Linked DNA regions of Homo sapiens: region 1 is linked to region 2. Evidence: fine-mapped expression QTL. A gene starts in region 2. The other region holds a variant in brackets. All regions are shown on one strand. Distances are from middle to middle.

Region 1 (15,764 bases), 180 kb before region 2:
TAGTGAAAAACAGAATTGGCCATCTAGCTTTTCTCCTGCAATAACACTGCTGTTGGGAATATCTAGGTTATCTAGAAATAGTGACCTATTTCCATTGCTAATAAGGTGAGGACGGTAGGTCTCAGGGTTTAATTTCCCACCCAATGGTGTAAGGGATGAATCACTAAGCACTGTCCTGTTATGTTTCAGGATCCCCTGTGGCCTTCTATGCCAGCTTTTCAGAAGGGACGGCTGCCCTGCAGACAGTGAAGTTCAACACCACATACATCAACATTGGCAGCAGCTACTTCCCTGAACATGGCTACTTCCGAGCCCCTGAGCGTGGTGTCTACCTGTTTGCAGTGAGCGTTGAATTTGGCCCAGGGCCAGGCACCGGGCAGCTGGTGTTTGGAGGTCACCATCGGACTCCAGTCTGTACCACTGGGCAGGGGAGTGGAAGCACAGCAACGGTCTTTGCCATGGCTGAGCTGCAGAAGGGTGAGCGAGTATGGTTTGAGTTAACCCAGGGATCAATAACAAAGAGAAGCCTGTCGGGCACTGCATTTGGGGGCTTCCTGATGTTTAAGACCTGAACCCCAGCCCCAATCTGATCAGACATCATGGACTCGCCCAGCTCTCCTCGGCCTGGGGCTCTGGCCAAGGATGGGCTGGAGGTCATTCAGTTGGTCTGTCTCTTCCCTGGAAACCTTCTGCAAAGATGGTGTGGTGTACGTGGCTTCCCTGTAACCACATGGGGCTTGGCCATTTCTCCATGATGAGAAGGACTGGAATGCTTCTCCGGGCAGGACATGGTCCTAGGAAGCCTGAACCTTGGCTTGGCATGCCTTCTCAGACAGCACGGCCTGGGCTCCAACTCTTCACCACACCCTGTATTCTACAACTTCTTTGGTGTTTTGCTCCTCCTGTGGTTGGAAACTTCTGTACAACACTTTAAACTTTTCTCTTGCTTCCTCTTCTCTTCTCCCTTATCGTATGATAGAAAGACATTCTTCCCCAGGAGGAATGTTTAAAATGGAGGCAACATTTTGGCCAACATTGGAAAGCACTAGAGGGCAATGGGATTAAACCAACCTGCTTGGTCTCTATTAGTCAGTAATGAAGACGACAGCCTGGCCAACCAAGGGAAAGGAAATTAGTATCTTTAGTTTCAGTCATTCCTTGTAGGATATGGTTTAGCTGTGCCCCCACCTAAAATATCATCTTGAATTGTAATCCCTATAATCCCCACATCAAGGGAGAGATCAGGTGGAGGTAATTGGATCTTGGGGGCGGTTCCCCCATGCTGTTCTTGTGATAGTTCTCACGAGATCTGATGATTTTATAAGTTTGATAGTTCCTCCTGTGTTCATTCTCCTTCCTGCCACCTTGTGAAGATGCCTTGGTTCCTCTTCACTGTCTGCCATGATTGTAAGTTTCCTGAGGCCTCCCCAGCCATGTGGAACAGTGAGTCAATTAAACCTCTTTCCTTTATAAATTATCCAGTCTTGGGCAATTCTTGATAGCAGTGTGAAAATGGACTAATACACTTGTGTTTATCTGTAATTTAAATTTCATGTCTTTTTCTCCTTGCCTTACATAGGGTAAAGACCAAGAAATGCCAAACGTGAACTAAAATATGTAGGGCCTTCAACTTTTTTACTTCCTCCAGTATCTTAGGACCATCGTAATTCTTGTTAGCATCTCTAACCAGGAGGCAGCTGAGGGAGGAGGGAAAGAAGACTGTAAAAATCCCCCTCACTAATGATCAACTTTGGAATAAAGTGATGCCCTTCAAATCTCTGCCTCATTTACTTCTGGAGGGCAAAAATAATTGGTAGAGTAGGTAAAAAAAACATGGGACAACGTGAAACTATGTGGGTAAATGTGACTGATTATTCCAGGCCCTGTTATGTAGAATGATTTCCGTTTATTCTATATAAAACACTTGGAAGTTTCCACACTAGGCAAAGATACTAATACTGGACTAGACAGTACAGCTCATAGCTGCAATTATTCCTGTAATATACCAGCATATGGTTTTCAAAAAAGTTCAGATCCTATAGCAAACTGGCCTGAGAAAACAGTCATCTAGCTATCAGAAACAAGGTTTTTTTTGGTATTAAGTACTCAAAATTTGTTGAATATAGTCTTCTCTATAAGAAAATCAGATTGCTGAGGCAGGAGAATCGGTTGAACCCGGGAGGCGGAGGTTGCAGTGAGCTGAGATGGTGACACTGCACCCCAGCCTGGGAGACAGAGCGAGACTCTGTCTCAAAAAAAAAAAAAAAAAAAAATCAGACTGGACTTCGTAGTGAGTTGCTTGTTGGCGTTAACAAGGTTATCAGCACTTCTCATTGTTTGCTAGGAGTTATTACTTCACTTGTTCCTCAGAATTTATTTAGCACTAAGTTTTGTGCACTCAATGTGCTAAAACATCGGTGTTAAAAGGAACAGTATGCCAGGCCACACTGCTCATGTTTGACCTGGGGTAAATCACAACCTCTCTTGAACTTTGTCTTTAGTGTGAGGTGGTTGATCTTACAGCTCTAATTAGGTATTCTGGCATTCTTTTTTGAGACGGAGTCTTGCTCTGTCACCCACGCTGGAGTGCAGTGGCGCAATCTCAGCTCACTGCAACCTCTGCCTCCCAGGCTCAAGCAATTCTCCTGCCTCAGCCTCTCGAGTAACTGGGATTAGAGGCACCCACCACTATGCCCGCCTAATTTTTGTATTTTTAGTAGAGACAGGGTTTCACCATGTTGGCCAGGCTGGTCTTGAATTCCTGACCTCAAATGATCCTCCCACCTCAGCCTCCCAAAGTGCTGGGATTACAGGTGTGGGCCACCACGCCTGGCCTCTGGCATTTTATTATCTTAACCACAGGTTTAAGTATCACCCACCCCCGGTGCAGCTCTCAGTTACCAAGACCAATTCTGCCCCAAGGCATGAAGCAGACGGCCACGCCAGAACAAAGATTAGAAGCCCAGTAGCAGGTGAGCCTTGCTGCTGCAGACTGTGCTGTGTCTTCTTTCTGCTCAATCATGCAGTGACTGGTCAGGCTCTGCTGTTAACAGTTGAGACATTAGGTAATGCAGTCTTATCCTTTGGAAGTTACTGCCCATAGTAAATGAAGTGAATTGATCCCTTCTGGAAGGGGTACATGTCATCCAACCCTCATACAGTTGGTCCTCTTTGAGAGGAAGATTATACATGAAAGTGCTAACGGGCAAGCTCTGCCAACAGCATGGATGTGTCACTCCAGAAGTTTCTGGGATGAGAACTAGAGAAATGGTTCTTCTGGACAGGGTGTTTTCCATGCAACAAAACATATATGACTGCATTTCACAAAACCTTAACATCAAGTTTAAGGGCAAATTTTCTGTTTAAACGGTCCTAAAATTAGGACCCCCCCCCCAGATTAGCAAGACTTCTGAAGTTCATCTGATAGACTTCCTGTCTCCACCTGGGTGGAGGCTCCTCCTGTCCTGCAAGCAGACCCCCCGTTACCCAGACCAGCGGTCAGCACCCTCACTGTGGCACCCAAAACACCACAATGGACGGAGCACACGGTGGTACCTGCAAACCTGATGTGGAAAAAATATTTTAAAATCCCCAAATTGGTGGCTCATGCCTGTAATCTCAGCACTTTGGGAGGCCGAGGCGGGTGGATCACCTGAGGTCACGAGTTCAAGACCAGCCTGGCCAATGTGATGAAACCCCATCTCTACTAAAAATATAAAAATTAGCCAGGCGTGGTGGCGGGTGCTTGTAATCCCCACTACTCGGGAGGCTGAGGCAGGAGAATCACTTGAACCTGGGATGCAGAAGTTGCAATGAGCTGAGATCGAGCCGTTGCACTCCAGCCTGCGCAACAAGAGTGAATGAAACTCCATCTCAAAAAAAAAAAAAAAAATCTCCAATTGGAAAACAAGAGACGGTACCATAAGTACATCAGGACATTTTAGTAATTCCTGAAAAATAGAAGGGATCAGGTCTGAAATGAAACAGCAACAGGAAATCATGACCCCAAACATGTGAGACTGCTGGGGAGATGGGAGTGATTTGGGCGGAGCCCCAAACTCAAACCCAGCCCTTGAGACATGTTGGGGAGGCAAGGGTTGAAAAACTAACTGTTGGGTACTATGTTCAGTATGTGGGTGATGGCATCAATCATACCACAAACCTTAGCATCACACAACATACCTAGGTAACAGATCTGTACATGTAGCCCCTGAATCTAAAATAAAAGTTGAAAAAAAACAATAACAAAAACCAACCCTAAAACAGTTCAACCATCACCACAAGGAAAAAAATAAACACACTTGGGGTCACTGTGTGCCAGAACTCCAGCCCTGCCGTCAGCCCTGAACCCCAGGTACACAGCAGCTGCTGGGCCTCTGGAAGCAGGGAGCCCCCATACTCTGACAAACATGCCCTTAACAAACCCACAGGGGCCAATCCCAAGTTGTCTGCAGAAACCACAACATAATGTCAAAGTCACTCCTACTGTTAGATTTTATTTCAGAAGCAGTGTGAAGAGGCTACATAGCTCGTGACATGTTGCTTAGAACTCTCCTTTTCTCAGCCTCTGCACCCTGTTATGTCTTTAGCTCAAAAACAGAAAAGCTCTCCCTGCTGTAGCCTGAGCACCACCCTCCTTCCATCCCCTCCATCAAGAAAGCTCCCCAAACCTGGCTTGACAATTACTCAGCTCTCTTGGAGCGGGTAGTGGACGTGGATGAATGCAGTAGGGAAAGCCAGAATCCTTTTGAGAAGGAAAGGGGAAATGAGGCCAGCATGGTGGCTCATGCCTGTAATCATAGCCCTTTGGGAGGCTGAGGCGGGAGGATCGCTTGAGGCCCAAAGTTTGAGGTTGAAGTGAGCTATGACTGTGCCACTGTACTCCAGCCTGGGTGACAGAGTGAGACCCTATCTCAAACAAACAAAAAACCCAACCACACCAAAATAACAATTAGCAAAACTTCAGTAAGGTCTATAGATTATGGTATTGTTGGTCATTGCTATTGTATCAATGTGAACTTTCCTGGTTCTGATAATTGTACATAATTGGTTAAGTAATAGAACATCCCTGAAGTATTTAGGGATAAAGGGGTATTAGCTCTGTAATTTGCTTCTAATAGGTCAGAAAAAAATGTGTGCATACACGATACATGGACATTACAAACATTACAAGATGAGTCTCTGTGATTCCTGTACACACACACACAGAATGACAAAGCAATTGTGCAATGTTAGCAGTTTATGAATCTGGGTGAAGGGTAAATGGCAGTCCTTATACTATTGATGAAACTTTAATGGAAGCCTGGAATCATTTCAAAATAAAACATTTGGCTGTTGAAATAAACTCAGATGGGCTGACAAAAGTAGAAGGTAGGATGAAACATATGAGAAGCATAGTAACAATTATGGAAGAAACATCTAGGGGACCTGAGATTTGTTCTAGAAAGTTCTAGAAAGAGAAAAGGAAAAGAAAGAAAAAAGGGAAGAAACAAAAGAAATAATGGGAGAAAATTTCCCAGGTCTAAGAAAAGATCCCATTAGTACTAAGAAACAGAATGAATATATTTAGATATGGCCAGTTTCAACTTCCAACATCAATAATAAAAAGAAAATTCTATTTCTTGAAAATAAGTTAACCTGTATAACATGTCACTTATTAGATCCACATCAGACTTCTCACTGGTGACAAGGGATGCTAGAAGATCATGGAGTATCATCTTCAGAGTTAGATTCTATCTCCAGCTGAACTCCTAGCCAAGTATGAGGACAGGATCAAGTAATAAAAATTGCTTTTGAAATGTCTTGATTAAAATCCCTCCCACAGCAGTGTAGGTCTTTCAGTGGAGACTTCCAATTTTTTATGTTTTTCAACACTGACCTGCATTTCAGTCATACAGTAGAGCAACAGATGTCATCATCTGGATTCTAAACTGGCTTTTAAAAATGGCTCTTCCATTAAAGAAAAACAAGGGGGCCCAATATTTTCTTCACATTGCTTGAATATATATATATATATGTGTGTGTGTGTGTGTGTATATATATATATATATTTTTTTTTCTTTTTTTTTTTTTGAGAGACGGAGTCTTGCTCTGTTGCCCAGCCTGGAATGCAGTGGTGCGATCTCAGCTCACTGCAACCTCCGCCTCCTGGGTTCAAGTGATTCTCCTGCCTCAGCTTCCCAAGGAGCTGGGACTACAGGCGAGTACCACCACACCCAGCTAATTTTTGTACCTTAGAGACAGGGTTTCACTATATGTTGGCCAGGCTGCTCCTGACCTCAGGTGGTCTGCCCGCCTCAGCCTCCCAGAGTGCTGGGATTAGAGGCATTAGCCACTGCACCCAGCCAAAAATATTTTCAATATAAACATTCCATATTGATTTTCACTTTGAGCTTCCTGCATAATGTTTAGAATGTGAGCCAGGCATGGTGGCATGGTCCCAGCTACTCAGGAGGCTGAGGTGGGAGGATGGCTTGAGATCAGGAGTTTGAGGCTACAGTGCGTTATGATTATGCCTGTGAACAGCCACTGCACACTAGCCTGGGTGACAGTGCAAGACTGTCTCTAAAAAAGACAAAATTAGGATATAAGCACTGAGGTGGATGTAGCGACATTGAGAGATATGGAATTGACTTAGATTTCATTTGAACAAAGACCAAGAAGCTGCTAAGATTCAGAGGAGCAATAGGTTGATGGAATATGTGAATTAACAATTCCTATGTCAAAAGGAGATTATGGGCTGGGCGCAGTGGCTCACGCCTATAATCCCAGCACTCTGGAAGGCCAAGGTGGGCAGATCACCTGAGGTTGGGAGTTCGAGACCAGCCTGGCCCACATGGTAAACCCCGTCTCTACTAAAAATACAAAATTAGCTGAGTGTGGTGGTGCACGCCTGTAATCCCAACTTCTCAGGTGGCTGAGGCAGGAGAATTGCTTTAACCCGGGAGGTGGAGGTTGCAGTGAGCTGGGATCACCCCATTGCGCTCCAGCCTGGGTGACAGAGCGAGACTCCACCTAAAAAAAAAAAGAAAAAAAGATTATGAATGAACCTTTCAGCCCTAGTCCTTGCTCCCTTCCAAAAATATTTTTTGTATGTGCCACTGCACTTGAAATAAGCCGCCATCTGGATCCCAGCATCGAGGTGACTCTCCCACTTCTGCTTATACCAGCACTCACACATTTAAGTCTCCATGCCTGCAGCAGTGCCGCTGATAGTAGGTGGCCTCTGCTCACTGCTGGCCACTTTCAGCGGTTTATGTCCACCCAGTCAAGACTGTATGCTCCAAGCGCTGAGCCAAGGCTGTGTAGGAGCGTGCACCTAACTTGATATAAGGATGACATGTCAGAAATGGTCAATATGCTACTACTATCAGCAAATGTTTCTCCAAGTGAAAACTTAGTAACTGACTTACTGTCTGCTTGAAACTATCTACAAGGATTAAACCTATTTTGGAAGAACAAGGATTAGACAATTCTGTTTCTTAATGTCTGCTCTGTTAATAATATTAAAGAAACCTTGGAATGGAGCAGTGAGACTAACAGATTGCTGGAAAGGAGAAATGAATACATTTATTCAGTGTTTCCACAGACAGAAGGAAAGCTGGCAAGCATTTGCAGTTCCCAGAAATCACTGAGTCTTCTTTACCAGGCTGCATCAGAGCGCCTGCGATTATTCTGAGAAACTTACAATGACACTGAACAGAGACTCCCGTGAGGAATCTGTAAGAGGCTATCTTCAGACACGCATTTCTTTTGAGGAACAATAATCAGTGCCACATCGCGTCTGTGATTTAACATGTTCAGTTCCCTAGGAAAAGGCAGCAGAAGGCACACTGCTGGGATGAATTCACATACACCTGAAAACAGCCCTGACTGGCGGTGGGACTCAGTGCAGGTGGGAAAATGACAAGAAAGTATTGCACAGGAGGAGGAAAGCTATCCAAGGCTTCACTTCCCATTGCAGCAGGAGCATCTTAAGGCCAGGTAAATGCATCCCATCGCTCTAAGCTCATGAACTGCTAGCAGGAATGAAAATGAAAAGCTTTGTGAGTAGCAATATGGCAATGTTTTCCAAGAACCTTAGTTTTTCCATCTTAAAGGATCTTTTAAAAGTTCATATCCACTAGTCTCATTTTCAGAAATGTAATATAAGAAAATAAAGATTTATGTATAAGGATGCTTAATATCTATTTTTCAAAACAATGAAAATAATCCAAATATTCAATAGGGGATTGAGCACAGAAATTACTCCATCTTCTTAGTCAAATATTGTGCAGTCATTAAAAAAAAAGTTCTCAATGGCTATTTAATGGCATACTAGGATCCTAATATTACAAAAAATGCAACATAAAAAAGAATAAGGCCGGGTGCAGTGGCTCACTCCTGTAATCCCAGCACTTTGGGAGGCTGAGGTAGGCAGATCACTTGAGGTCAGGAGTTCGAGACCAGCCTGGGCCAACATGGTGAAACCGCATCTCTACTAAAATACAAAAATTAGCCGGGCGTGGTGGTGCACACCTGTAATCCCGGCTACTTGGGAGGCTGAGGCAGGAGAATCACTTGAACCCAGGGGGCAGAGGTTGCACTGAGCCGAGATCGCGCTACTGCACTCCACCCTGAGTGACAGAGCAAGACTCTCTCAAAAAAAAAGATTGAAAAGAAACACTCAAATGTATATAGTGATAATGTCTGGCAATAGAATTTTGAGTGATTTTTATTTGCTTTATTATTTGCTGTTGTTTCCCAAATTTTCTGCCATGAGTACATTTCCATAATCAGAAAACAATGTTTTGGCCAGGCATGGTGGCTCATGCCTGTAAGCTCAGCACTTTGGGAGGCCAAGGCAAGTGGGCCACCTGAGGTCAGGAGTTCGAGACCAGCCTGGCCAACATGGTGAAACCCTGTCTCTATTAAAAATACAAAAAATTAGCCAGGCATGGTGGCAAACACCTGTAGTTCCAGCTATTCGGGAGGCTGAGGCAGGAGAATTGCTTGAACCCAGGAGGCAAAGGTTGCAGTGAGCTGAGATCGTGCCATTGCACTCCAGCCTGGGCAACAAGAGCAAAACTCCGTCTCAAAAAAAAAAAAAAAAAAAGGAAAAAGAAAACAATGTTTTGTCTTGTTTTTTAAAGGAAAAACCCCTGCACCGTGATAGGTTTAGAAGTTCTCTATCTCCACAGGGCAAGCGTGTACCTACCTGTGCTCCATACTGGGTTTCTGGTAGTTGAAGTGTACATCTCAGGAACATATGTATATACACTAACTTAATCATTACAAAAATCTCAACAGATGACTTCTGATGCACAATACCGTCTGAGTGTAGCATCACAAAACACATCACTAAAGTATACTAAAATAAGGTTATTTACTTCAAAATGATACATTGGACATAATCTGTATATAGAACAAAGCAAGTAATGGTAAACTCTTAAGGCACCTTTTAAACCAGATGCTGTACAAAATACATTTAGTGTGTTACACGTCAAAGACGAATCTATATTTTTGGTGTTTTACAACTGCCTGATAAAACTGCTTGCTTTTACCCTTCTTTCAATGCCTATGTACAGTTTCCCCTAATGAAGCAATAATGATATTTCCATTTTATACAATATATACTACATTTTAGTTTTTAAATGGGCCAGGACAAAGGTCACTAAAAGGGCTTAAATAATTCCATAGAAAACAGAATACAGAGCATAAGCTAAAATTACAATAGTTAATCCTTTACAAGAGCCATATTCACATACTTTCCTTATGGGACCATCATTACACGTGGCTTCACAGGATGCTGTGCTGGATTTTGGTTCTTAGGAACACACCTCCTCCCTGCAGTTTCCACTGTGACTCTCACAGCAGCACACTAAGGCAAGAGACGAGCTGTGGCACTGCTATTTTAACACCTGACTCAAAGTCAGTAATAAATATGACCACTTTTAAACACTACAAGGGCTATCATAATCTTTTGTTAAAATAAAAATCATTTCTGCTGTTGAAATGATTTTAGATATTTAGAAACATTTCAAAACAACATCTATGAAGTATGTTTATGAAAGCTGCCCTGGAATAAATTATTCAATATCAAATTTGATCCTGGGCCAACCCAAAGATGCATGATTCTTTAAAAACTATAGTGCATTTTTGTTCTAAACAGAACAAAGCATCTGAAGAAAAGTACTGATTGTTAGAGTAAATCAAAATTTGGCACGTTCTAGGAAAACATAATTTTAAAAAACTATAGGTCACTTTCTAAGTTTAGAAACACTTCTGGACACTGGAAAGGCAATGTAAAAATACTGATTAAAATAACTTTTGTGAAAATATTTCCAAAGAAATCAGATGCAAGTTTTATACATCAGAAACTTGTTCAGTAAAAAGCACAGTAAAAGCTTAGAATAAACAAACTGAAGGAAACCCTAATGTGCCTTTAATCCTAGAGCTATTTGCCAGCATAAAGAGAATTCACAAGAACTCTCTTTGAGGGTTAACTTTTCCTGTTTATAGTCAGGTAGTTTGGGTTGTTTGCTTTTATATTTTAATTATTTAAAGAGCTATCTGAATGAAGCTACACACTTCAAAAACACTAAATTGCAAGTGGGACCAAATAATGGCTTCCAAGGTTTTACGAATTTACTAACTATGGTACTACATAATACTTCTTCTTGCTGGCCTATCATATTCTTTAAATATTTCACTTAGTCGATGAGCTTCAGATTTAAGAATAAGAGTGGAAAGGAGAGACAAGAACTAAGTTTAATGCAACATTTTTGTTTTTTGTTATTTATTTGTTTGTTTATTTGAGATGGAGTTTCGCTCTTTTGCCCAGGCTGGAGTGCAGTGACACGATCTCAGCTCACTGCAACCTCCACCTTCTGATTTTAAGCAATTCTCCTGCTTCAGCCTCCCGAGTAGCTGGGATTACAGGCACCCGCCACCACGCCTGGCTGAGTTTTTTATTTTTAGTAGAGATGGGGTTTCACCATGTTGGCCAGGCTGGTCTTGAACTCCTGACCTTGTGATCCACCCGCCTCAGCCTCCCAAAGTGTTGGGATTACAGGCGTGAGCCACCGCGCCCGGCCACATTTTTAGATTAAGATTCCAAAGACGGCAGCATTTGCTTTTTAAAGAACATGTTATACTAGAAAATGTTTTTACTGAGCAAGTTTCTAAGATTAACTCTTGATATCACTTTTACTAGACCAAGTTAATTTTAAAAAACCATAATAGTGGTCTCATATACTGGCTGTAATTTTTTGCTTCCACACACCATTTGAACATTTCCAATAAACTTTGCCTGTCTTTATATTTTTATTAAGATGACAAATGAACTTTGGGAGGCCGAGGCAGGTGGATCATGAGGTCAGGAGATTGAGACCATCCTGGCTAACAAGGTGAAACCCCGTCTCTACTAAAAATACAAAAAATTAGCCGGGCGCGGTGGCGGGCGCCTGTAGTCCCAGCTACTCGGGAGGCTGAGGCAGGAGAATGGCGTGAACCCGGGAAGCGGAGCTTGCAGTGAGCCGAGATTGCGCCACTGCAGTCCGCAGTCCAGCCTGGGCGACAGAGCGAGACTCCGTCTCAAAAAAAAAAAAAAAAAGATGACAAATGATTTTAAAGATTATGGTATCAAGTCAAAAGTAAACCAAGATTTAAGTAAATTGGGTGTTCTAAGTGCAATCATATCATACGGCAACGCAGATTAAAATATTTGTATTTCTCAGTATACATATGGTGAAAAATTCTGAAAAAACAAGTTATTGGGTATTATCCATATGCAAATTTACTTATCTTGATGAACACTTCAGACTTTAATTATGGCAGATGAAACTTATTAATCAAAATGGTTAAGGCAATTTTCAAATTTGTGAAATTTGATGTGCAGACAAATTTGTAAGTTTTAACCTTAAATGATAGTCAAATTTTGGTAATGGGTGGACATATGCTGATTTCCTCCCATTTAATTTAAACCTTTTTGATGATGATGTGATATAATCACATTTATTTTATGTTATAATCAAATAAAACTATCTCACTTGATGTACTCATGAATTGTTTGCTCAGAATAAATATTTAAAAAGCATTAAAGAAGTATAAGTTTATGT[A/G]AATCAGATTTCTTGAGATAACAAGGCATCTATAAAATATGAACCATTTTATTGAAGAACAGTTATACAGTGTAGCTACAGATACTGACTAGATACTAAATATTTCTGCCTGATTTTTCATTGTCTTCACAAGTTAGGGAATAGAAATCAAAAAACCAAAAATCTCAAATGATTTAGCTGTCCAGAACATATTTGACAGTTGATAAATTTATAACAGCTCTGACATATAAATTTCTAATTAGAGAATCCTTTCATTTGAAAAAATTGAGATGATATTACCCTAATGAAGTTTTTACCTGAAGTTAACAAAGTCCTGGATTTGATATATTACTTTGAATGCATTAATTCTGAAAATTTATATTTAGTTCTACTTTATAACATTTCTTCTCTTAAGGATGGGATATGAGGTACACATGAGCTGGTTTCTACAGTATGAATGTATGTACATATATAAAGTATGGTTGTAAAGGAGTGGGTGATTTGCAAATAAAGCACATTATACACAAAATATAAATAACTTCCCTTTTAAAAGTTACTGAGAATAAAGAATATAGAACATGGTTATAGGCACTTACATTGCTATCAAATGCAGGAATTCACTTCAATAAGAAGTGCTTTCTTTGTAAGCATGGTTCATGGCAATAGAAGCTCCAACTTTGGAGAGGATGCTTTCCGTGACAAAAATAATAACCACAAAAAAAATGGTGGTTGAAGGAAAACAGTCCAAATTTACAGATGCTTTAAACTTCTTTTGGCCTTGGCATCAGCTTTCATGTTAAAAAATAAAGCTGGTGGGGAAGCTATCTCACTTGCAAAGTAAATGGCTTGTATGAGATTGGCGAATCTTGGTCAGATATTGCATTTTTAAAGCACAAAACCACCGGCCACCAATATCTTCCTGTGCATGCATATAAATTATTTTCTTCTAATTCAAATGGCAGCAGAGGAATCCCGGCGTGCATGTGCATGGAGACACACACACATCACTAAGGACACAGGACAAACTATCATAAAATAAGCAGTATCCCAAACACATCATCATCTATAGGCTGTTTTACAAAGGTAGAATACAAACGAACTGAAAGTCTCAGGTAAAAGGCAAAGTCTATTTCTCCATCTCTGCTGCGCTCATTTATCTTCTTAAGGCTTTCACAGAAAGCACCGTTTTATGAACAGGCAATTCAGTACCCAGAGCTTGACTGGAGACACTAATCAGGATTGAAGTCTTGATGCAGTTCATAAAAACCCACTTAAAAAAAGGCATCAAAAACCACATTTAAAATAAAGCTGTCCATATATAAAGAATGAAGTGTTTAGAAGTTCCCAGCTTGTATCCTAATAAGAGTACTGAAAGGTTTAATATTAGCAGCCTGTGAACACGTAGTGAAGAAAGAGTCTGAGAACCAAGTTAACATCCTTATTCCACTCTAATTCCACCCATGCCATGGGTAAAAACAGTTCTTGCAGTCTAGAGTTTCTCCTCCGATGGTTTAACCATCAGATTTTTACATCTTGGGATTCAACCATCTTGGCAAGCGTCTTCTTAATTCTCAATGCTGTGAGTCTGGAGGCTGGATTGTGGGCCCAGCATTCTGACATTAGCTTCAAAACTGCTCGTAGACACTGAAAAGTAAAGAGATGTTCAGTGAGCAGAGAATATATTTGGTGGCATTTACGAATCACTTCTTCAGGGGACTGAGTTCCACTCACTTCATCACTGTTCCACCGATTAGACACAATTGGCCGCAAACGTTTGACACACACAACCTCACGCATATCTTCGTATGACGGATCACTCGGTACCATGTTGTAATATGGCAATTGGTATTCTTCCACGATCCCTATAAGGGAATGAGAAAACATGGGCACAAAAATGGTTGCTGGACAAGATATACCAATCTAGTAAGCATCTTTTGCTAAACTATGGAACTAAAACGGATTCTTACACAAGAAAAAATATAGACACTATGATTCACTCTTAATAGTAGATGTATGTTTTTCTCTTATTTATGTCCAACTATTTCCTCTACCTCCACCAGGGATGTCATCACAACTGTGATAGAGTCCATCGACAAAGGGCATATCAATCTTCCTTAAAAAAAATAAGCAAGGCGAAATCAGCCATTTACCCTAAAGTATAATTATTTACTTATATGGTTGTTCCTACTAATGAATAGTTTTTATTATTTTGTTTCATTTTGCTCTGCAGTAGAAAGACTTATGAGGTGCAGATAAGGGTTCACACAGCAGGCCTGAGACCTTCCCTTAGGAAAGGCGGCTTGCAAGGTTTGGCCTTGGCCAGTGCCCGGGTACACAAATGGTAAACAGTTCCCTACATGGATATAAAACTTACCGGAAACGGTGAGGGTAACTCACCACTCCTGGGCTGCTTGTGCAAACAATGTGGTGTGTACTGCACGTCTGCTTTCCTGCTGGAATTCTGGTACATGCCAGGCAGAGGATGCCTATGTGACCAGCCTCCAGTAAAATCTCTGGGTGCCAAGTCTCTAAGGAGCTTTCCCGAATGAGAACACTTTGTATGTGTTGTCACAACTAGTAAGAGGAATGAAGCACACGCCCTGACTCCGCTGGGACAGGATTCTGGGAAGCCTCGCCTGGTTTTCTAAACTTGGCTGATTTTGATTTGTATCCTTTCACTGGGATAAATGTTAGCCATTGGGACAACCACATGCCGAGTCCTGTGGTCCTTCAAGTGAAATCGCACAACCTGGGGGTGGTCTTGGGGACTCTGACGTATGTGACATCTAAATTACGTAACTGCCAGCAATTGCACTCCTAGGTGTATACCCAAAAGAAAGGAAATCAGCTAACCGAAGAGATACCTGCACCCTCATGTTTGCTGCAGCACTGTTCACAATAGCCAAGATGTGGAAGCAACCTAAGTGACCATCAACAGATGAACACATCAAGAAAATGTGGCACCTACACACAATGGAGTATCATTCAGCCAGAAAAAAGAATGAGATTCTGCCTTCTGAAATAACATGGAGGAACTGGATGTCATAACGTTAAGTAAAATAAGCCAGGCACAGAAAGACAAACTTCACATGTTCTCACTTACTTGTGAGATCTAAAAATCAAAACAACTGAACTCATGGAGAACAGAAGGATGGTTACCAGAGGTTGGGAAGGGTAGCAGCAGATGGGGGGGGATGTTTAATAAGTAGAGACAAAATAGAAGAATGAATAAGTATTTGGTATTTTATAGCACAACGGGGAGGACTACAGTTAGTAATAATTTAATTGTACACTTAAAAATAACTCAAGGAGTATAACTGGTTGGTGAAACAAAGGATAAATGTCTGAAGGGACAGATATCCAATTCTCCAAGATGTGATTATTACACATGGCATGCCTGTATCAAAATAACTCCTTATCCAATAATATATACACCTACTATGTGCCCACAAAAATTAAAAACTAAAAAGTTATATAACTGGAGCTGTTATTTTTAAAATGATGAGTAAATCAACATAATCAGAAACTACTCAAACTCCCACCTCCTGTGATACAACGACGAGCCATCTCCCAAATGATTAGGCCGAAGCTGTAGATGTCAGCCATGATGTAGGGCTGGAAGTGGTTTTTGTTCAGGCTTTCGTCCAGCACTTCGGGAGCCATGTAGCGTTTGGTGCCCACCCTGGT
Region 2 (16,170 bases):
TATTTTAAGTGGTCTGTAACACTACTGTGTATCTTACAATGGACATAACTCAATGCAAGTCAACATTTAATCTTGTGTTAAAAAGTTGGTCCAACTTGGTCAATATGGACCTTGTGATGTTAAAAAGACATCCTAAAGCCTAAAAACTAGTAAAAGGTGGGAAAGTAGAAAAGGAAAAGAAATGGTTCCTACTTCAAAATTTAGTGTGATAGGAAACCCATTTTCCTTTCTCTCCATGGTTCGCTGCTCCTAAGATCCAATAGTCAGATCAGGACAGTTCAACAGCTACTGTTAGGCTAGACAGGAGCCTTTCCCCATTTATTCCTTTTAATATGCAAGAAAAGTCCGTTACAGACCCACCCTGCAAACTAGTAGTGAAACTAATATTTGTATAAAAACTGCTATAAAGGCCAGCCACAGTGCCTCACCTGTGTAACCCCAGCACAGGGAGGCTGAGGCGAGCGGATCAACTGAGGTCAGGAGTTTAAGACCAGCCTGGCCAACATGGCAAAACCCCACCTCTACTAAAAATACAAAAATTAGCCAGGCGTGGTCCCAGCTACCTGGGAGGCTGAGGCAGGAGAATCCCTTGAACCCAGGAGGCAGAGGTTGCAATGAGCTGAGCTCACGCCATTGCACTCCAGCCCAGGCGACAGTGCGAGACTCTGTATCAAAAAAAAAAAAAAAAAAAAAAAGAAAGAAAGAAAGAAAGAAAGAAAAAACAATAAGGTATTAAAAAAAAAAAAAAAAAAAAACAGGTAAATCTGAGGCAAATACCACAGAAAATATTTCATTTAATGGAAGACCTAGGAAACTTCTGAGTGGCGAAGTGGTAAGAACTGGGCTTACAGATTAATTTAGGCAGAAATACATAAGATTAGATAAAGGAGAAAAGTGAAGGCAAGAAAATCATAACATTAGTCCAGGTGGGATGAGAACTTGATTTAGAGTTAGGGGGTGGGGGTGGAGTCGCGGGGTGGTGGGGGGAGAACTACGTGAAAGCCAAATAACACTAGATTTGAAAATAAATTCCTGAAAAAAATGTGAAACATTAAAATTCATATGAGAATCAGAAAATCGACACAAACCAACAGCTATTAAAGAAATTGAAGTGTTACTCAAAGTCCTCTCCAGAAAAAAGATCTAGGCCTAAATGGTCACATAGGGGAGGTCTTCCAAACTTTCAAGGAACAGATAATCCCAGTCTAAAATGATCCTGAAAAAGAGAAAAAGAAGGAAAGCTGCCCAACTCGTTTTATGATTTGACTACTACCTTCACACCAATATGAATTCAGAATTGCCCCACAGTTAGCAAGAATAGAGAGCAGAAGAGTTACAATATCATAAAGCAGAATCAACAGATGTTGGCTACAGACAAGATATGATGAAATGGGAAAAGGTTTGGGTTTGGTATGACATCAACAAAAATAAAGAACACCAAAGAGGCAAGTTTGCTAAGGAAAAGCAGCTCAGAACAATCAGGTACAGATATGTAGAAAGCAACTGAATAAAAAAGAAAAAACAAAACAAACAAACAAAAAAACGTGATTCAGAAGACACATAAACAAAGAATTGAGAATTATTCCAACAGAAAGGTCTGAACAATCATTCTAAGGGACTAGAGACATAGAGAAAAGTGATCTGAAAAGTGAAACTTGGAGAACGCATATTAAAGAGGAAAGAAGAAACAGAAGGCAGAAAAGTGGCGGAGAGGAACAAAGTCAGTATAATGTCACAAAAGGCCCCTCTTCATCTAGTTAATAGTTAACTCTTGCTCATCCTTCACAATCTGCCTGGGTTCCAACAAAGCAATTTTAAGGTATCTTTCCCAGATTCTCCCACCACCACAAGCACCAGATCAGGTCTCCATTTGAAGTTCTTATAATATTCTGCACCTTAATTAAAATCACAATTATATTTAACTAGAGACTTTATTTTTCAATAAGTATTTCCCCACTAGACTTTAAGCTCCATGAGGGAAGGATCTGTTGTATCTTACTGCCTTGGACCCTGTGTTAGAATACAGCGAGTATAGATGAATGAAACCCAAGGAGAGGCATCTGAAAATGTGAAGTCGATGTTAAATCTTACAGAAAACTCAAGGAGAGGACTTAGAAAAAGGTAGTTAAATGTGTTGATTAGGTTATAGTTCCTTGTGAAGGTGAAATCCAGATAACAAGGGGTTAAGAAATGAGTGGCTAGCCACCAACCAGGCAAAGGCAGGAAAAGCAGACTACACTTGGCAATCTCTAGAGATGGATTGTGAATGACTAAATTTTAATTTCAATGTTGCGCTAGTTCGCAATTAACAACCATGTGTTACTTTTATTACGAACAAGCTTTTTAAAATGTTAATAAGATTTGAAAAGGAAAAGCAGCAACAAGACAGCTTGAAGGAGTAGCAGACTTAAGAAAAGGTTTTTGTAAACTGAAAAAATCTTAAGAACATTTGTACTTTAAAGAACCCAAATACGACAGAGAAAATAACTCACGCTCCACTAAGCAGGAAAATTAGAAGGAAAGGAAAAAAACCCCAAGGTGTTAACTAATAAGAAAGACAAAAAAAAAAAAAAAAATTCTCCCTCTTTGACGGAAGGTTAAGAAGCCAGTAACAGAAGGAATTTAATGAAGGAGCTCCTGCTAAGTGCCTCAACCTCTTCTGTAAAGGGTGGGGAGAAGTGAAGAAAGTAGAAAAAGTTTAAAGTGGGCTCCACGGAAAATGGAGGAAAAATTAAACAAGAACTGAGTCTGGTTCTACTAAAAACGCATTCTACATTTCAATCGGCCTTTCATACACTCACCCCATTCCTAGATCAGAGAATTGCCCATATTTTAGCTTCAAATTTAAAAATCTAAATAATTCTGGTTCACATTCTTTATTTCAACAACTGAAAACAATGAGACGCATTAAGTTACACTCTAATTCAAAGTTTAACTCCTCTCACAAGTAAATACAATAAAGTAGTTGTTTTCAACTCCAGCAACAAAATAGCGATAATTTCAAGTAAGAGTAACTGAAAAATGTTCCTAAACGTAAAAGTGTTTGCAAACAGTTTTGGTTTTTTTTCTTCCTAATTCGTTTGCCAGAATACGATGTTCCTGGGTTCAAATCCCAGCTCCCTTAGACAAGTTAGTTAACCTCTTTGCGACTCGGTTTCTTCCCCTAAAACAATGAGGAATACAATAAACCAGAATCGTTGTAAGGATTAAATGACGTAACACAGGTGCCAAGTTCATACTATGTACTCTGAACAGTTTGTTAACCGCTTAAAAGAGAAAACCTGCAGGAGTTTGACCAAATTAAAACATCTGAGAGCATGAAAGAGTACCACGCTCAAACGCCAGACCCTAACACACAGCATATTATTTTTCTTCCCTGACGCAAGCTCATTTTTTTTTCCTTGCCAAATCTTTCCACTAGGAGTCTGGAAAGAGAAAAAAGGGTCCAGGCAATCCAGCAGAAAGTTTTCCAAAACTGAAGTACGGAATCACCAGGCCACGGAGCGGAGGCCGCGCAGGACAACAGGTGAAGCAGCTCCGGGAGCTCGGGGGCCAGGGCCCCTTCCCGCGGGGACTCGGGGGCGGGCCGGCTGCTCCTCTCACTCGACCCCCGCCCGAAACTCATTTTGTTCTCCCCTGTTCCTCCCCACAGCGTCCGGAGCCAAATCACAAATATCAGCCTCGCCGCTCCGGGGCGGGGAGGTGAGCGCCTTTCCCATTTAAGGATTCCAGAAGCGTCCCCGGAGCGACTTTCGCCCACTCCGCATCCCCAAACTCGGCCTGCAACCCGCGAGTGGGAGACAAAAGAGGGGCCGGCGGGGGACGCGGCGCGGGGTGCCGTGGGTCTCTGGCTGGGCGGTCCCGGCCCAGCGCGCGCCGAGGCCTGCGGAGCTGCCGGGGCCGGGCCGGGCAGCCCCTGGCTCCGGCCACCGCGCGCCCAGCTGCCTCTGCAGCCTCGCCCGAGCCCCTCTGGCCTCCCCGCTGCGGCCAGCCCCTCCGGTCCGCACGCGCACTCCCAACTCACCCGGACCCCAGGGAACGCATCCTCCAGCCCTCGGCGCGGAGCGGGTGGGCGCGGCGAGCCGCCGGGGCGAAGTGGGGCCCGAATCGGCCTTCGCCCTTGGCGTGCAGCGGCCCCGACCCGGTCGCCCCTCGATCGGGCCGTGCGATCTTCGCCGCGCGCGGACGGACGCGCCGAGCCTAAGCCTTCCTGCCCGCCCTTGGCCCTCCTCCCTCCTCGCTCCTGCCTCCTCCCTTCTCCTTCGCCAAGCCCGGCAGGCGGATTCCAATCTCTGCAGCGGCCGCCGCCACCGCCGCCGACTCTTGCCAGGAGGGGAGGGGGCGGCGCGGGTGCGGGGGCCTGGGGGAGGGGCGGGCGTCCGCGGGCCTTGCACGGCGCGCGCGCACTGGGAAGGCCCCCGCCCGCGCCGCGCGCACCCGACCACGGGCGCCTGCCCCGCCCCGCCCCGGACACGAAAAGAGCCGAGCGCACGGCGGAAGCGCCCGAAGAGTTCGCGGAGCCCGGCGCCCAGTTGCCGGGGAGGAGGGCCAGCCGCCGGCAAGGGGGCGCCGAGCTGCTGGTGCGGGCGGGAGTCGGGGCTGCTCCTCCGCGCGGGCCCGCCGGCCCCTCCCCACAAGCCAGCCCCACAGCTGCCGCCCGGGTAGCTTCCCGCAGACGCCGTAGGTAGCACGCGATGGAACGCGGCGGAGGGGAGCGTGGACACGGCTGCCGGGCGCTGCGGCCATCGGCGCCCTGGACGCCCGCTCCGGCCTTCGGGGCCGGATATCCCCACTCTCGCGGGCTCTTTCGCGTGGACCCCTCCTCCGGCCGACACTCACACTGCGGTGAACGCCAGTCAGCTGGCGTGAAATAAGGTCGCTGGGAAGGCACCAAGTCACCAAGGTGGGGGATGGCCAGGTCGTGGTAGTTGCGACAAAGAAAAATATAAGTCACATTGCATTTGTTTCTCGCCCACCCACCGCTCCCGGCGTCTCTTCCCGGGCTCCTTGCCAGCGTGCCGAGGCGCAGGCAGGGTGATGGAGGCTCCCCGGCCGGGAGGATCTGCCGGGGAGAGCGGCTTCCCTCATCGATTCGGGAGCGCCAGGCCCGGCGCGCCCGGGCTCCTGTGACCTGCGAGCCCGCGAATTCCAGCGGCATAAGATAAGGAGCGGCGAGGGCCCAACAGGACTGAGGTCAGCCAGCTATAAATACGCCTCCAGCTCCACCGCGGGCTCACGCTGGTGACCTCGTGTACCCTCCGGAGGCTCATTCCGTCCATTTGGAAAATGCAAATAATTGTCACCACCTCTTTTCTTCCATTTCCCCTCATTCATGGTGGAAAATGCTTTTAAAAGTATTCGATGACCCGTATGTGAGGAAAGAGGAGATAGGCCCCTTTTTCACCAAATGTGACTTTAACCTCCTTAGTAATCCAAGAAATGTATCAAGTTTAAGTCACTTAACAAAAGATGTTCTTTTAAAGGTGCATTTTAAAAAATCACTTTTAAAACTGGGTAAACTGGGTAAAAAGAAAGGGGGAAGGAAAACAATGTGCCAGGCATTTGTATTGACACACATTCTTGCCTGAAGAGGTGTTTAGATTCCAGGGTATTCCCTTATATTCTGGTATAAATGTTTGAATTCCCGTGTATTTTGTTTCAATTTTTTGGTTTATCTTTTATTCTGTCTCCCTTTTCTTCTTTTACCCGCCTTTGCCCTTAATGCTGCAGATAGCCTCTGTCATTCTGAATTATTTTTCAATTCTGTTTTCTTCCCTAATCTTTTTTTCTGGGCTCTTCAGCTGTCTCAGGTTTGACAGTCATGGGTTGTAGTATCTTGCTATGCAGGAAGAAGAGGATACGTGAGATTACTTGCATCAACTAAAATTGGTCACTTTTCTTTCTCAAGTTTCCTTCATAATACCCAGTTTTAGTTTTTTTGTTTTTTGGGGTTTTTTTGTTCTTTTTTTTTTGAGACGGAGTCTCGCTCTGTCGCCCAGGCTGAAGTGCAGTGGCGCCATCTCGGCTCACTGCAAGCTCCGCCTCCTGGGTTCACGCCATTCTCCTGCCTCAGCCTCCTGAGCAGCTGGGACTACAGGCGCCCGCCACCACGCCCGGCTAACTTTTTGTATTTTTAGTACAGACGGGGTGTCACCGTGTTAATAGGTGTTCTCGATCTCCTGACCTCGTGATCCTCCCGCCTCGGCCTCCCAAAGTGCTGGGATTACAAGCGTGAGCCACTGCGCCCAGCCCCAGCTTTAGTTCTAAAGGAAAAGATGGGCCTTTTGCTTAAGGAGATTCACATTGATTGGTCAAAGCTCTCATTGACGTATGCTGAGCAATGTGTCGGCAGAGAAAACCATGGCAAGCGTGTTATTATGCTCTTTATAGTCTAGTTGGATTTTTAGACATATGAATTGGTCTATAAAATAGACAACAATCTCAGGTGGGAACCTTAGTACATCAAGTTTCTGAAATGTACAAATGAGTATTCCCTGGCTTGTGTTATCTGCCACTGTAGAAATGAGAGCAAAATTGAAGCATCAAATTTTAAGTCGTGATATGTTTGCTTCTCTGCAAAAGACTCTCCTTTTCAAATCTTCAGGAATTTTTCGCTCTCCTTTGATAAGGCCCAGCTAGTACCCAGGCTTCAATCCTCAGCGCCCTGGCTACCAGCAGCTAGTGGGGCATGCTGTTCTCCCTGGCTACTGGCATGTTTATGCATGCCAGCCCGTTTCTCCGGTCTGTCTGCCCAGGGAGACATCTGGACACGTGTGTTCTGGCCCCCAAACTCAAAAGCAACATCTCGGGATCCACAGTTAACATTCCGTAATGTGTTGGTATTCCTTTAAGTGGGTTACTAGAATAGGCTGGAAATGGTCTTTTCTTCTGTCCAGGTAGGTCACAAGAGAGGTAGTTGTTACATGCCCAAAGCAGCATTCATTAATTACATCGTGCATTTAGTTATTTGTTTGTGGTCTGAGCCCCTCTGCTCCACTAGAATATAAACTCCATGAGCAAAAGACTTTGTCAGTCTCTCTTTTTTTAGAGACAGGTTCTCACTTTGTCACCCAGGCTGGAGTGCAGCGGCATAGTCATAGTTCACTGTAACCTGGAACTCCTGGGCTCACGTGATCCTCCCCCCTCAGCCGCCCAAGTAGCTGGGACTACAGGCCAGCTTGACTTTGTCAATCTATTCTCAACTCTCTCCTCAGAGCCTAGTGCCTGGCAAGTGAATATTTGTTAAATGAGAGAAGAGAAATAAGCATACATATCCTCTAGGCATTTCTAAACCTTGTCACCAAGACCCTTTTAGTGTTAGAGGGTGGCATGGCTATCTTGGAAAGAGTGAAGGTTGGCTGGGAAAGCTGTGGATCACATCCTCTTCAGTGAAATGGGACTTCTGCCTTCAGGGATCCAAGGTGAATAGATTAATCCAAGCTAATCCATTCAAAGTCATTTTCATGTTGTAAAGATCTTATAAGGCAAAAGGCAGCACGAAGTCTCTGGGTCTGATGATAAGTTAGAGGCCAGTAAGGAGGCACGAGTGAAGGAATGCCATTGGTAGGGTGACCCTTTAGGTTGGCTTCAAACCCAATATTAAATGGGTAGGTGTTAGGGAGAATAAACAGCTTCATTTTTCAGCATGGACACTACTACATCTTTTTTTTTTTTTTTTTTTTTTTTGGTTAGTAGTACCCCATCATGGCTTAGAAGGACTAAACTGAAACAGAAACTGTGGTTAAGAATAAGATGGATGTATATAATTCAGTGCACAAAATAGAGGAAGTTTAAAAACCTGAATTCATTTTCATTGTGGTGGTACAGTGTTTTACTTCTTTTGTTTACTTCTAAACAACTTGCTCCTTCTCCCTTAGCTCCATTTTAATTTATCTTTGCCTCAAAGCACTGGCTACTATGATTGAAAGATAGATGATGGAGGATATTGCTGCTCTCACTTGGTCCTACCTAGTCCGTGGCCTCTGTATTCCTCCTTTCCCTACTATCCGTACACCCTTTACCATAGAACCTGATCTTTCCTAGGCCTTGAGGCAGGAAGAATTATCAGAGCTTTGGTCCCAAGCTCAAGACTCAGCCTCCCACTGCCTCGCCCCTTTCTAAGAACTGACAGCCCTTCTCTTGTGTCTGAAACCCTGACCTGTTAGCTTGCCAGGACCTGGAATTTCTCTGCTTGTTGTTTGGACTTAGCTGCATCCCTGCACCCAGACTGCTGGGCAGTTGTAGGTATTGTTGGTGGCATCACTTAATTGCCTCCAGCTCTTTGTTTCTAGGCTCCCTGTATCTGTATTCTATCTATCTGTTGGGCCTCCCTTCCCCCATTACCTCAGGCTGGATGTCCCCATCCCCACTGCGCTCCTGGACTACCACCTGTTGTTTGCTCACTACTCTCTGGCTATCAGGCACTGCCTAGAGGACTATGGTTCCTCCCACCGAGCACCGGGAGCTGGGGCCTCCCTACCCCAACTCCCACGCAGCCCACAGTAGATCTTGGCCTTCCCTGTCCTGCTGCAGCTCACTGCCCTGCTTTTCCCTATCCTCACAGCACCTGGTTTATTGCACTTGGATTATTTTTTAACCAGATGAAAACTATATATAATATATATGCTCTGGACATACACTAAGTACATATTAAAGGTGTATTATATGTAATTTTGGCTGGGCGTGGTGGCTTATGCTAGTAATCCCAAGCACTTTGGGAGGCCAAGGTGGGTGGATCATTTGAGGTCAGGAGTTCAAGACCAGCCTGGCCAACATGGTGAAACCCTGTGTCTACTAAAAATACAAAAATTAGCTGGATGTGGCAGCAGGCACCTGTAGTCCCAGCTACTTGGGAGGCTGAGGCAGGAGAATCGCTTGTCGCAGTGAGCCCAGATCTCGCCATTGCACTCCAGCCCGGGCAACAGAGCGACACTCTGTTTCAAAAAAAAAAAAGCTATATATATATTTTTTTCTGGCTAAAAATTAATCCAAGTGTAATAGGGGTGTGTGTGTATATAATCTATTGAATATAATTCAAATAGATTTCTAGTCTGAACTTTGTGTGTGTGTGTAGGTGTTTGTGTACATATGTAAGTATATGCATATATGTATATATGTACACACAAATATGCATATGTGTGCACACATATGTGCGCATATGCGTATGTGTGCACACATATGTGCGCATATGCGTATGTGTGCACACATATGTGCGCATATGCGTATGTGCGCACACGTGCGCATATGCGTATGTGCACACGTGCATATATGCGTATGTGCGCACATGTGCATGTGCGCACGCATATGTGCACATGTGTATGCGTGCATATGTGTGCATATGTAAGTATGCATGTACACATATGTACATATATGTACGTATGCATGTACATATGTTTGTGTGTATACACACAAAAAACCCATACATACATTCAAAAATGAAAAGACCCATGTCTGATTCTTCTTAGTATCCCTAAACACTGATTCTACTCAAGAATTCCTTTGGAGCTAGTAGTCCAGAAATCCAGCATGTGGAGCTGAATATGATTACCTTGGGAATGACTAGTAAAAGGAAGGCAAGGTGCGATGATAAAAGATTCAAGCTGAGATAACTGGGGAGATAAAATCTGGATCAGGAGTGCAGATTCATGAACACCATACTGTGCCTACTGTCCATGGCTTACATGGTAATTGGGATGTATTCCTAGATGTGGTGTGGTGTCACCAGTGTGACCAGGCATACTAGTTTACCCATCGGATATGTTGAAAGTACCTGACCCTGTGCTGGACTCAAAAGTTCAGAGAATGGGAACTGTCTCATTCTCACTCCATTGTATCCAGTGTGCTGCTTGGCACACCAGTAGGTAGTCAGTAAGTATTTATTAAATGAATGACATACTTAATTTTGTTCTCTACTGGTAGTTTGCCCTGGCGCATTTCTTTTTATTTCTATTAGCCAAGGCAGGGTTAGGTGTTTTGTTTTGTTTTGTTTTTCCATATTTTTGAGGATTAATGATAAAGCACTTATCTTGTTGGAATGAGAGTCTACTAACAAATCCTGTACATCATAATAACAGAACTATCATCTAACAACTTGTTCTCAATAAATAAACTTTAAAACAACTTCCTTTATTATTTCAAAGGCATACATAGTCATATATATAACCAGTAACCAATACTTGTCAGTGTTTATTTTAAAATGCAGATTAGTTTCCATTTAGTTTGCTACCTACCTTAAAGCCCCTCTTCCTCCGATCCTGAATGCTGCTAGCTCTCCTCCTAATTGGTCATTCCCTCTTTCAACTAATGTTGCCCAGTTGTTTAGATTTCTATTGTGAAACACCAGTCCCATTAAATCTGAAAACACTGCTATAGAGTAACATTTCGTTAGACTGGTCTCACTACTTTCTGAAGAATGGACCATATTCATTCTCCATTTAATGCCATTCTCCTCCCTATACTGCCTGAGTACCACCTCTTCCAAGAAGTCATCTTTGACTACTCCATCCTCATCTCCTTAGGCTTTTCTCTCAATGGTCTACATCACTGACTTTCCACATAGCTTAGCTGTTCTTATGTCTTTCTCACAAATAAGTTTTCATACCTTTGTTCTTCAACATAAATAGGGGCCTCTCAGCCTGAGGGAGACAGTTTAGGGAGTACCAAAATACACGTAGTATCAAAAAAGCAGTCCCAGGCCACTGGAGCTTACCAGTTATTGAATCCTTGCTTCTGCGAATCCATTGTTTTGAAGGTTGGTGGGTAGTTGCAAACTCCTTGATGCATCTGCTGTGCTGTTGCATCCTCCCTCCTGTCTATCTCCCCTGCGTATGTACCACTGTCGCTATGGTCACGGTACTGAGCACCAGGGTTGCTAGGTTGCACAACTTTAAGGGGGTGCCATTCGCAACCTGCCTGACACGAATGGTGCTCCCTGGAATTATGCATTGCAACATCTGCACGTGATCCTGTCGAACACCAGAAAATTCTACTCCAGTGGCAATGGGGAGGCTGGTCCCTGGCTTGCTTAAAGAACCCGCTTTTTTATTGTGTAACATTATATACCTTTCAGGACATTTGACAAGATATATTTAAGCATTTGTTAATTTTGTATTATTAAATATGTGTGTTTATAAAGAAATAGATTATCCTGAAATAAAGAGAAAACGTTGGCAGTGTTCTGTGGTGGCCTAATGGATGGTTATTATTTTCTTCCATAAGCTTTATCTCCCCCACAATGGACAATGTTATACGTTACTTTTTTTTTTTTTTTTTTTTTTTTGAGAGTCTGCTCTGTCGCCCAGGCTGGAGTGCAATGATATGATCTTGGCTCACTGCAACCTCTGCCTCCCGAGTTCAAGTGATTCTCCTGCCTCAGCCTCCTGAGTAGCTGGGACTACAGGTGTGCGCCACCACACCCAGCTAATTTTTGTATTTTTAGTAGAGACGGGGTTTCACCATGTTGGCCAGGCTGATCTTGAACTCCTGACCTCATGATCCGCCCGCCTTGGCCTCTCAAAGTGCTGAGATTACAGGCGTGAGCCACTGTACCCGGCCCAATGTTACTTTTATAATCAGAAAAGTAGATATTTTCGACTGTGGGTTTCAGCACCAAAAAAAAAAAAGAGTAGATATTATTTAAAAGAACTGGTTGATTGATAGAGAGAAAAATGAAAGTGGCAAATTGTATATTTGTCAGAATGAAGTCAGTTAGAATCCCATATAAGATATGTAATTAAAGTTTTTATTTATTTGATTGACGTGAATATTTTTCTTGGTAAAAAGAGTTATTCTAGGCCAGGCACAGTGGCTCACCCCTGTAATCCTAGCACTTTGGGAGGCCAAGGCAGGCAGATCGCTTGAGTCCAGGAGTTCCAGACCAGCCGGGGCAACATGGCAAAACCCCATCTCTATAAAAATTACAAAAATTAGCCAGGCATGGTAGCACTTGCCTGTCATCCCAGCTACTCGGGAGGCTGAGGCAAGAGGACCCCTTAAGCCCAGAAGGCAGAGGTTGCAGTGAGCTGTGATCATGCCACTGCACTCCAACCTGGGCAACAGAGGGAGACCATGTCTCAGAAAAAATAAATAAAGAGTTGTTCTGTTGTTACACTTGCAATAACACATCATACTCATGAGATTTTAACTATGTATACCATATGTCATCAAAACTAGGGTACTGTTTCGTTGTGGGTTTTTTCCACCCAAAGAACAGCATGGATACTGTTGATTATAAGATCCATCATTATTTTATGTACAACTAAGGAAGAAAAACCTTGCCAGTTAAACCCTGACACGTTAATTAAGATATCGCAATTCCAGAAAGTTTCAAATGTCAAAAAAAATGTGCATCTGAGAATTAATGAAATATGGTGTATTTTAATGCATCTAGAAGGTGAAGCAATGCCATACAGGCCAGCATTTGAAATGTTAAATTTCTGAGTTTTTGATGTATAATCTTGTTATGCCTGATTCCTGAATAGCCACACTGTGGATGATACCACAAAAGCAGAGGCAGTGCAGTTCAACTGCATGTAAACATGTAAAACAAACAAAAGTGAATAACATGATTCAGTCACATAACGTTTGGAAAAAATACCAGCATCAAGTCACGTGCTGGATTATATTACAAATCAAAAATTAACTTTTTTTTTTTTTTTGAGATGGAGTTTCACTCTTGTTGCCCAGGCTGGAGTGCAATAGCACAATAAAAATTAACTTTTTGACAGTTGCTTATACTGAAAATGTGTGATGACAAGACGAATCAAATTTTAGATGTTAACACATAAGTTATCTTTGGAGAAGTCAAACTAAACATTCAGAAAAATCTCAGCAGTGCAATAGAATGACTTTACATCTGTCCCGGAAACTGAACAATAGTGCTTGTTGCTTATGAGGCCATCAGGAAAAGCCAGCTGTGGATTTCTTTCTAGTACAATTAATTGCTTCCGCTGTATATAAAATTGAAAGAATTGGGTGCTTTAGTGCGGAAAAAGGATATCCTGCTACACTGCTCCTATTTCCTCACAAAGGCTATTACTGAGCCTTTCACCATTAATTCGCATGCATTGGATTATCCTGTGATGAAAGGCCAAAAGGCTTTTCATTTTTATAGTCTCTTATCCTATTTATTTGGCACCTCTCTGGAGATACCTGCTCTTCTCCCAAGACCAGCTAATTGCTAGGATGTCAGAAGGTGGCTAATGACTGACTTCCTTTTCAGAGACTGTGAGCCCATCTCTTTGCTGCTTCTTGGGGTGGCTTTTCTTATTGCTGAGAAATATTCTGCGTTCTGTCATTATTTGAGGTAAAAAATGCTATCTTTTTTTTTTTTTTTTTTTTTTTTTTTTTTTTTTTTTTTTAAAGACAGAGTCTTGCTGTCTGTCACCCAGGCTGGAGTGCAGTGGTGTGATCACAGCTCACTGCAGCCTCAACCTCCTGGGCTCAAGCAATCCTCCCACCTCAGTCTCCCAGGTAGCTGGGACTACAGGTGCATACTGCCACATTCAGCTGATTTTTTTGTATTTTTGTAGAGACAGGGCCTCCCTGTATTGCCCAGTCTGATCTCGAATCCTGGGTTTAAGTGATCCTCCCACCTCAGCCTCCCAAAATGCTGGGATTACAGGCGTGAGCCACCGTGCTAGGCTCAAGACTTTGTTCTTAAGGCTGAGCTGAGCAGGTCAGAATCTACACCAGCACTGTCTAATAGAACTTTCAGTGAAAATGAAAATGTCCTGTATCTTCCCTGTTCCAACACAGTAGCCCCTAATCTCATGTGGTTATTGAGCATTTGATATGGCTAAACAGAGAAACTGAATTTTGATTTTTATTTATTTTTAACTAATTTAGAATTTACACAGTCACACATGCCAAGCAGCTATTGTATGTACTAGCCAGTGCAGGTCTACATGAAGGATATATAAAAAAATCACTTGATGGTCTCAGTGCACACAATGGGCAGGGATTGAGGGGTTGGCATTGAAAATGCAGCATCTCAGCTAAGTGCAGTGGCTCACGCCTGTAATCCCAACGCTTTGGGAGGCCAAGGTGGGCAGATCACCTGAGGTCAGGAGTTCAAGACCAACCTGGCCGACATGGTGAAACCCCGTCTCTACTAAAAATATAAAAATTGGCTGGGCATGGTGACGCACGCCTGTAATCCCAGCTACTTGAGAGGCTGAGGCAAGAGAATCTCTTGAACCCAGGAGGCAGAGGTTGCAGTGAGCCAAGATCGCGCCACTGCACTCCAGCCTGGGCAACAGAGTGAGATTCTGTCTCAAAAAAAAAAAAAGGAACAAAGAAAATGAAGCATCTAAACAACCAAAAGAGTAGAATTGGATTGTTTGTAACACAAAGGATAAATGCTTGTGGGGTGGATATCCCAGCTTCCGTGATGTGATTATTATAACTGCATGCCTGTATCAAAATATGTACCCCATTTAAAATATATATATATATATATCCACAAAAATTAAAACTAAAAAAAATGCCACCTTAAAAAAGAAAATGGGCTGGGCATGGTGGCTCACACCTGTAATCCCAGCATTTTGGGAAGCTAAGGCAGGCGGATTGCTTGAGCCAGGAGTTTGAGACCAGCCTAGGTGACATAGGGAGACCCCTTCTTTACAAAAAATACCAAAAATTAGCTGGGCATGGTGGCACACACCTGTAGTCCCAGCTATTCAGGAGGCTAAGGAGGGAGGATTGCTTGAGCCCAGGAGTTTGAGACAAGCCTGCGCAACATAGGCGGACCCCTTCTCTACAAAAAATACTAAAAATTAGCCAGGCATGGTGGCACACACCTGTAGTCCCAACTACTGAGGAGGCTGAGGTGGGAGGATCGCTGGAGCCAGAGAGGTGGAGGCTGCAGTGAGCCATGTTGGCACCACTGCACTCCAGTCTGGATGATGGAGTGAGAAAAAAAAAAAAGAAGAACAGGTTCTGAAACCATTGGCTGAATTGATGCCTTTGTTCTCGCTGTTAAAAATAAATGGTAGAAAGCCCACACATTCAGGGATCTTTTCTGTAGTTTGCTACTAGAGAAGTTTCTCTAAACATGCAGAGCACCAGAAATCGGGGTTGCTATTCAATGGATATAAAGTTGCCGTTTATATTAAGTGTTCTTACTACGATTTTTTTGTTTGTTTTTTGAGATGGAGTCTCACTGTCACCCAGGCTGGAGTGCAGTGTCCCGACCTTGGCTCACTGCAACCTCTGTCTCCAGGGTTCAAGCGATTCTCCTGCCTCAGCCTCCCGAGTAGCAAGGATTATAGGCACACACCACCACGCCCAGCTAATTTTGTATTTTTAGTAGAGATGGGGTTTCGCCATGTTGGCCAGGCTGGTCTCGACTCCTGATCTCAGGTGATCCACCTGTCTCAGCCTCCCAAAGTACTGAGATTACAGACGTGAGCCACTGCATCCGGCCGATTCTTTTAAAAAAACAAATTTTTTGTCTGGGCATGGTGCCTCACGCCTGTAATCCCAGCACTTTGGGAGGCCGAGGCAGGTGGATCACGAGGTCAGGAGATCGAGACCATCCTGGCCAACATGGTGCAACCCCCTCTCTACTAAAAATATAAAAATTAGCTGGGCATGGTGGCATGCACCTGCAGTCCCAGCTACTCGGGAGGCAGGAGAATTGCTTGAACCTGGGAGGCAGAGGTTGCAGTGAGCCAAGACTGCACCACTGCACTCCAGCCTGGGCGACAGAGCGAGACTCCCTCTCAAAAAAAAACAAAAACAAAAACAAAAAAAACAATTTTTTTAATGGTAGAAACTAGCCAAAATGCTAAGTAGCGGTTGTCTCCCAGTAGTAGGACTATGGTCACTTTTTTTTCTTCTTTCTGCCTATGTGTGTTTTTCATATTTTATTTAATAAGCACATATTCCTTTCTTAATTTGTCAACATTAAAGAGAGCTAAACCCATTCATTTCTTTATTACCCAATTTCAAATTAAAGTGGTTTCAACCAACTCTTTCTCTAAGAGAGAGGGTAGTCATTTTGAAATACTGTTTCTTCAAAAATTACTTCAGGCAGCAATTTTAGTTGAGAGATCTGTATTCCCTATCCTAGCGTGAATAGCATCAGAGACCTGTGTTTGGGATGCCCTAGAACCCTGCTGAGAAGAATCAGAGAACATCCTTCTGGAAGACATGGCTGCAGACCTGGAG

What was found. PIP is the estimated chance that this variant, and not a neighbour inherited with it, causes the effect.
Region 1: its variant is fine-mapped to the expression of BMPR1A in whole blood (TOPMed, PIP 0.93).

The regions. Positions count from the first base shown.
Region 1 is chr10:86,921,551-86,937,314 of GRCh38, reverse strand. It overlaps BMPR1A (bone morphogenetic protein receptor type 1A), which reads right to left. Exons shown (of 13, transcript NM_004329.3): 11 at 15,620-15,764; 12 at 13,809-13,939; 13 at 9,346-13,721. The coding sequence ends at 13,596. It overlaps MMRN2 (multimerin 2), which reads left to right. Exons shown (of 7, transcript NM_024756.3): 7 at 190-1,775. The coding sequence ends at 572. Among named protein-coding and RNA genes, the nearest start is that of MMRN2, 28 kb to the left of the region's middle. The variant A/G (reference allele first, on the strand shown) is at 12,099.
Region 2 is chr10:86,744,774-86,760,943 of GRCh38, reverse strand. BMPR1A (bone morphogenetic protein receptor type 1A) reads right to left here and starts at 4,325. Exons shown (of 13, transcript NM_004329.3): 1 at 4,025-4,325. RefSeq lists a silencer at 3,843-4,812.